Linked DNA regions of Homo sapiens. The protein of the gene in region 1 purifies or fractionates together with the protein of each later gene. This does not show direct contact. Each region holds a gene or a part of one and is shown on either strand. Other genes may lie near its edges.

What was found. The genes of interacting proteins can lie anywhere in the genome.
Region 2: the proteins of OTOA (region 1) and GALNT1 purify together in Homo sapiens (affinity purification with mass spectrometry; one large-scale study listed by BioGRID and IntAct). This does not show direct contact.

The regions. Positions count from the first base shown.
Region 1 is NC_000016.10:21,662,612-21,666,767, forward strand, and holds the start of OTOA (otoancorin isoform 1 precursor), read left to right. Parts: upstream 1-1,356; 5' UTR 1,357-1,621; intron 1,622-4,156. UniProt on the Homo sapiens protein: May act as an adhesion molecule.
Region 2 is NC_000018.10:35,686,240-35,689,739, reverse strand, and holds part of GALNT1 (polypeptide N-acetylgalactosaminyltransferase 1), read right to left. Parts: exon of another isoform or gene 3,369-3,500; intron 3,061-3,368; exon of another isoform or gene 2,809-3,060; intron 2,725-2,808; coding exon 2,554-2,724; intron 568-2,553; coding exon 450-567; intron 1-449. UniProt on the Homo sapiens protein: Catalyzes the initial reaction in O-linked oligosaccharide biosynthesis, the transfer of an N-acetyl-D-galactosamine residue to a serine or threonine residue on the protein receptor.

The DNA.
Region 1 (4,156 bases):
TTCACCATGTTGGCCAGGCTGGTCTCAAACTCTTGACCTCAAGTGATCAGCCTGCCTTGGCCTCCCAAAGTGCTGGGATTACAGGTGTGAGGCTCCACACCCAGCCCCTAGCTTCTAGGTTCAATAAAAGTTCAAATACATCTATTTCTTACCATTGGCTTTTTTGTTTTGGATATAAAATTATTTCCTTGTGCTAATTATGTGGTCTTTGTTAAGAACAATTTTAATGACTGTGTAATCCACAGCGTTTATGTATCCATTTATTTAAGCATTTCATTATTGGTGGACATTTAGGATGAATTTTTTTCTACCACTCTGTGTATGTATACATCTATTATAGGTCATACTATTATTTTTATTATGGAAAATTCCAAGTACATAAAAAAGAAAGGTAATAATGAATCCTCCCCAACCAGCCTCAGCAATTATCAACACATGGCCCACCTTGTTTCATCCCTACTCCCACTACTCCTTGGTTCCACTATTGCCAAGCAAATCCCAGATGTCTCATTTCAGTTTTGTAAATATATAACTGTAAAAGATAACCACTCTGAAAAGATAGCCACATTACAATTATTCATTAAGAAACCCGGCAGGGTGCGATGGCTCACGCCTGTAATCCCAGCACTTTGGGAGGCCGAGGCCGGCGGATCACCTGAGGTCAGGAGTTTGAGACCAGCCTAGCCAACATGGAGAAACCCGGCCTCTGCTAAAAATACAAAAAAATAAGCGGGGCGTAGTGATGGGCGCTTGTAATCCTCTTTACTTGGGAGGCTGAAGCGGGAGAATCGCTTGAACCTGGGGGCGGAGGTTCCAGTGAGCCGAGATCGCGCCATTGCACTCCAGCCTGGGCGACAGAGCGAGACTGTCTCAAAAAAAAAGAAAAAAGAAATGAAAGAAACCCAGCCATTAAATATCCAGCGACCACATTGCTCCAATTTTCTTATAATTTTTTTTTTTTTTTTTTTTTTTTTGAGACGGAGTCTTGCTCTGTCGCCCAGGCTGGAGTGCAATGGCACGATCTCGGCTCACTGCAACCTCCCCCTCCCGGGTTCAAGCGATTCTCCTGCCTCAGCCTCCCAAGTAGTTGGGATTACAGGCGCCCGCCACCGCGCCTGGCTAATCTTTGTATTTTTAGTAGAGCCGGGGTTTCGCCCTGTTGGCGAGGCTAGTCTCGAACTCCTGGCCTCAAGTGATCCGCCCGCCTTGGCTTCCCAAAAGTGCTGGGATTACAGGCGTGAGCCACCGTGCCCGTCCTATAACTTCTTTTAACGGTTTGAATTCAGATCTAAATAAAGGTCCCATGTAGCGATTGGTGGATAGCTCTCTAGTGCTCCCCATCCTCGCTTCCTAGCTGCCGCCCCGAAGAGTGGCTGGGGAGCAGGCATTTGTGCGTCTTGCAAGCTTCGACAGATAGGAAGTCCCAGGCGGGGACTGTGACCCCCGCCGCTGCCCTGGCTGAGTTCCCACCTGGGCCGCTGCAGGGAGGAGGTCGCAGAGCTGCCGGCTGGCGCCGCCCCGCCGCTCTCCTGCCTGCCCGCTCCCCGCATGAGCCCCGCGGCCCCGCCCTGCGCCACCCGCCCGCCCGTGGGACTCAGTGCGGCCAAGCCGGGCTCCGCAGGTGAGGCGCGCGCGGGGGCCTGGGCGGAGGACTCACGGGGCAAAGCGCTGGGGGAGCGGGTGGGCGCCCACCGCTGGGCCTCCCTAGGGAAGGGGTGCAGGTGATGGATGGCGTGGGGGACAGACCGAGAGAAAGAGGGTGGGCAAAGTGTGGGTGCAGCGGCTTTAAGGGCTCCTGGGATTGGAGGGCACTTGGAGGGGGGGGACGATGAAACTTCGAGAAAAGGGATCCAAAACTACTTAGTAATATAATAACAGCGATGACAACTGTTGCAATAACTATCACAATGATTATTTGTTATAATAATATAGCAGCAGTAAAAACAATAGCATTAGTAATAATAGCTACGATTCATTGCATTCTTATATGTGCCAGTGCTGGGCTTAGTTCTTTATGTATTTTATGTATAAAGTAATGCCTACCTCATAACAGTTGTGTGGAAGAAATGGAAAAATGCAGGTAAAGGCCGGGGCTCACACCTGTAATCCCAGCACTTTGGGAGGCTGAGGCAGGAGAATCACTTGAGGCCAGGAGTTCGAGACCAGCCTGGCCAAAGTGGTGAAATTCCATCTCTACTAAAAATACAAATATTAGCCAGGTGTGGTGGCGGGCGCCTGTAATCTCAGCTACTCCGGAGGCTGAGGCAGGAGAATCGCATCAATCCGGCAGGTGGAGGTTGCAGTGAGCCGAGATCAGGCCACTGCCCTCCATTCTGGGCGACACAGGGAGACTCTGTCTCATGAATGAATAAATAAATAAATAAATAAATAAATAAATAAATAAACAAATAAAGTTGATAGTTTTTTGCCAGGGAGGTATGAGTGCCATGCCTACTATGCAGAGGAGGAAATGCAAGCCTATAGAGGTTAAGGAATTTGCCCAATAGCACACAGCTGGTTAAGGTTTGGTTCAGGTTAAAGCTGGGGTCTTATCCCTGGGGTGGCACCTGCCACCTGGAGTTTTAGGTTCAGGGCTGCTGAGCTGACACTGGAGAGCAAAGCCAGTGAGCGTTGGAATCATTTAGCTCTGGGTTTGCCACCTGGCTGTGCATGCATAGCTGTGTGACCTTGGGCAGGTCACTTGACCTCTCAGAACCCATTTGCTCATCTGTGAAGTAGAGATAATGGTAATGCTTGCCTCAAAGATTCTACAAGAATTAAGCGAGACAATGTATGTTAGAGAGGCGTGTACTTAGTTCTGTCTCATTAAATGACTGCTGGGATTAAGGTTACTAGGGAGCCCCACAGCCCTGCATCATAACCCCCTCCCTGCCATTCGCTTGCTGTGTGATCGTTCATGTGCACTGAACTCATCTGTGAAACTGAGTACGGTAACCCTTCAAGGCTGGTGGAAAGAGTAAATGGCAGGGAGGAGGGTTTGGTGTGATGCCCGGCTCATAGAGGATGCTCAGTGAGACCAGTTTCTTCCTTTCTTTCCTTCTTTTCCTCATTGAATCCAAAGCCATTTGTTCTCCGGAGACTTAGGAGAGAAGAAGGGGAATAGCTGTGCCTAAAATCTCACTATTAGTGGCAGGGCTGGGACAGGAACTCAAGTCTGGGCATCTCTAGTCCACCAAGCTCCCATCCCCTTGACTGCTTGAATTTTTTTTTTTTCCAGCCAGGGTTTTGCTCTGTCACCCAGGCTGGAATGTAGTGACATGTGATCGCGGCTCACTGTGGCCTCGACCTCCCAGGCTCAGGCAATTCTCCTGCCTCAACCTCCTGAGTAGCTAGGGCTACAAGCATGCACCCAGCTAATTTTTAAATTATTTGTAGAAATGGAGTCTCCCTATGTTGCCCAGGCTGGTTTTGAACTTCTGGACTCAAGTGATCCTCCCACCTTGGCCTCCCAAAGTGCTGGGGTTACAGGAGTGAGCCACAAAGCCTGGGCCTACTGGACTTCTACAACCACTGTGAGCTGGGCCATTCCAACACCAAGCATTTGTAATCAGGCTGGTATTCTATAAGCCAGACACATTTACCTATTTTGGATTAATAGTCATGAAATGGCATTTTTTTTTTTTTTTTTTGGTGGAAAATCTCCCAGCTAGTGTCAGTATGCCTAGAGTTATGTGTTCATGACCCAGAGCTTAAATGGAGCAGCCTTGCAGACAGTGAAACTCCATGTAATTGTGAATTAATGGTTTGTGTCTGGGCTGGGGTGTCCCAGCAGGAGGGGAACCTCCTAGCATCTTTGCAAATTTCACAGAAGATGAAGTGACTCTGATCCATGGGTTGACCAACTCCTCCGGGTTTGCCTGTGACTTTCTGGTTTCAAAATGGAAAGTTTTGAGTCCTGGGAAACCTTTTGGTCCCGGGCAACTGGGAAAGTTGATCACCTTGCACATCCAAACATTCATAGTTTCTCAGGAAATTGTCTTCATTTCAGGTTTGTGGTTATTGTTGCTGTTTTCGAGTAGTTTTCACCACAGGGATCCTTGCCTGACTGATTTCCTCCAGTCTGCAGTGGGGGAATCTTTCAGTGGGGAAGGGGTATGGCCCATAGAGAAAGCTATCGACCTCCAAATCATCATCG
Region 2 (3,500 bases), on another chromosome or scaffold:
TTTTTATTGAAAAATATAAAGCTGGTAAAGTGACTAGGTTTTATATAAAAAAAATTTTCACACTAAAATAAAAAGCATATTACAAAATGTGAAATTTATGTTTAAATGTGAAATTTATGTTTTTGAGAGTAAAGCAGCAAAGTAGCATATCCAAACTATATATTAGCTTTTAGAGCTTAAATTACTTCCTTGAAAATAATAAAAATTAAAAACAACTAGGGAATCTTGTGTAAGTTTTATAGCTGAACTTCAAAGGTAACTAAATTATTTGCTTCAATAGTTTATAATGAACCCTTACTATCAGTCCTTTTTATGGACTGAAGGCTCTGAAGTTACATTAAACTTGTATTAAATTCAATTTTTATTTTTTATGTAGAGATACATGAATAATCAATGCACATCTATACTTGAAGTTAAATAAAAGATTAAATTTTTTTAAGGGAACTTACCCTAAAGGAAATTTCTAGGTTTTCTCCTCCCCAAATATCCATTCCAGCATCATATGTTCCAATTTCCTGAAAGTAATCTCTGTCTATTGAAAAAAGGCCTCCTGCCATGGTAGGTGTCCTGAAATTCAATAATGCTATACCATTAGCAATTTAAAATTTACAATCAATCAGTTTTTGTTTTTAAAAGCTGTTTCATAACTATTTATAACTACTGAGTAAGTACTTATTCTCACACTCTTCATAAACTTTCATACGCCCCAGGGGCTTTCTGTGTTTTATGCTGTGTTATTTGGTCTTCACACATGACCTGCACCATGGTCATGCTGACTGCTAGACTTGCTGTGTCATGCTTCTGCCCAGACATCCCTCTCTGTCACAGTCCTAAGAGTACTTTCTATCTTTCTTGGCCCTCAGGTCCTAACTGAGTTTAGATCTCAAACTCCTTAAATTAAAGCTGTTCCTCACAATCCTCTCCATCTGACTGTGCACCCACTCCACAGATCCTAGCAACTTCAAGGCAGTTGACTATATTAACCAAGTAGATTGAGGTTAGAGTTACCATGCCATGTTCTAAAGGGTGGCAAATAGTATAAATACATAAGATAAACTGGATGGAAACAGTGAGGTCTTTTCCTAATACCCACTAGAAATCTTTAAGGAGAGGAGACAAAATATAGAATAAAATCAATATGTTCCTTCCTGACTGTGTGGTATATTTTCTGCAAAAGAGGAGTCTAATTCATCAAAATAGGGCTCAGGTATGCAAAGGGAGTGGGAACATGTGAAATTAAGCAGAGAAATTATTAAGAAATGAAGGAAGATTTAAATAAATGAATATCAGCCCATTTGATTTTTATAAAGAACAAGTATGGAGAAAAAGTAAACTCCAACCAGGAGAAAAAAATAAGTTACAGGGACCAAAGATACCACGAAGATTATATTTTAAGATGAACCCTAAAATGTACTCATTGCCTTTCCAGAGGAAACAGTTGTTTCCAAAAAAGGTTTGGACTTATTTTGATTTTAGAAGAAAAAAAGAATGAGAAAAGGATTTAAAAGAAACAGCCAAAATTCAGAATTATCATTTAATACAGGGTTTTCTTGACCTGAGTTTTTTGTGTGCTAAATCTTCTGCATGTACATGTGCATTTTTCTCCATTAGAGAAGACCCATAGCTTTCACCAGATTTTCAAAAAATTTTGTCATTTTTGAAATGTTTAGGAACCCCTGATTTAGATAGTGAATTGCACTAACAGCTAAAGAGAAGAAAAGTCCCTTGCACTACTACTACTAAGAACTCAGGCTAAGGAAAAAAGCACACAGTCAGTGGAAAATCTCTTCAGTGTTGCCAGAACTGAACTTGAATTCAAGGGAAGGCAGACGCAGGAGGCCCAAAAACAGAAAAGCTGAAGCCTGGTTCTGAAGGAACTCTTAATACAGAAGTAGCAGGTCGGTACAATGGGGCTAAATTCTAGGATGGCTCAGAAGAGCTCAAAGGTCTCAATTTCATGTTCTAAAAAGAGCATGAAGATTTTTATTCCATCCTGAAAAAAAAATCTATATATGACCAAGTAGAGAAAAAAAATCAGAGAATAAATGGATTAATGAATTTTTTTATATTTTGTGTCAATTCTAGCTATTTTTATGTTTTACACAAGCTTTTCTAACTTTACCAGTCAATAACTGTCATCCAGATGGTACAAGTCTGAATTTAAAATTGTACATTTTAATGCAAGGACCCAGTTTTAGGTAGTATCTTCACATACTGACACAATTAATTAAGCTAAGTATTATTATCCTTAATAACTGAATTAAAGTACAGATCTGACGCATTTGCAAAATGTTCATAAAGGAATGAAAAAACACGCATGTCATCATTTCTCATGTGCACTAGATTTATAGAATAAGCAAAAATTTCTAATTTTATTAGAGGAGAAATCCTTCTTTAAAACACTCACATATGTGAAAGATGGCTGTTAACTACCATAAGGTATACGAATGCTTCACGTTTCTCAAAATACACTTATCCATTTGATATGATTCCCAAAGCTCCACAACCTTCTGCCAATAACACTTTAGGCAAAATGTCTGACAAATTAATTACCTGACAGGAAGAGTCCGATCACCTTTCCTTCTGTCCATTTCTCTTTGGGGAACAGGATACCAGCGAAAATTGAGCTTCCAGTTGAACCCACCATAGGTCATATCAGAGCCTGCCATGTACTCAAAAGTATCATCACTGATCACATCGATGATGGGACACACCACTGTTCTCCTGATGTCATAAAAGCAAGTTAAGAAATCTTTCAAAACATTCCTGTTTAATGCCAACTACAGAACAATTGTATAGTAAGTGTTTTTATTTTTTATTTTTTCCCTTGAAACAGGGTATCACTACTCTGTCACCACCCAGGCTGGAATGCAGTAGTGCAATCAGGGGCCACTGCAGCCTCGACCTCCTCAAGTGATCTTCCCACCTCAGCTTCCTGAGTAGCTGGGACCACGGCTGGGATCACATAACACCACACTCAACTAATTAAAAAAATTTTTTTTTTGTTTTTTATATTTAAGACTTTAATCTTCAAGGGACTGATTTTAACTATGATATACAGTAAGTATCCAACTTCATTTATTTCTTCTATGGATAACCAGTTGTTCCACCACTATTTATGTAATGGTCCCTTTTTCTTCTGCTGTAACTATGAGTGACTGCTCTGTCATAAATCAAGATTACATACAAAAATGAGCTGGTTTCTAGACCCTACCCTGTTTCACTAGTCTATTTGTGAATTCCTGCATCAATATACCACTGCCATAATTAACACAGCTTTAAAATAAGTCTTGACGCCTAGTAAGGCAAGCCCCCTTAGATCTGATTCTTCTTCAGAAGCATCCCAACTATTTTTTTTCTTTTTACAGTTCCGTATCAATGCTAGAATCGGCCTGTACAGTCTCTCAAAGAAAATTCTGTGGAGATTTCAATTGGAAATGCACTGAATTTATATATGAATTTGGGTAGAATTGATACTCTTATGATATTGACTTTCCTAT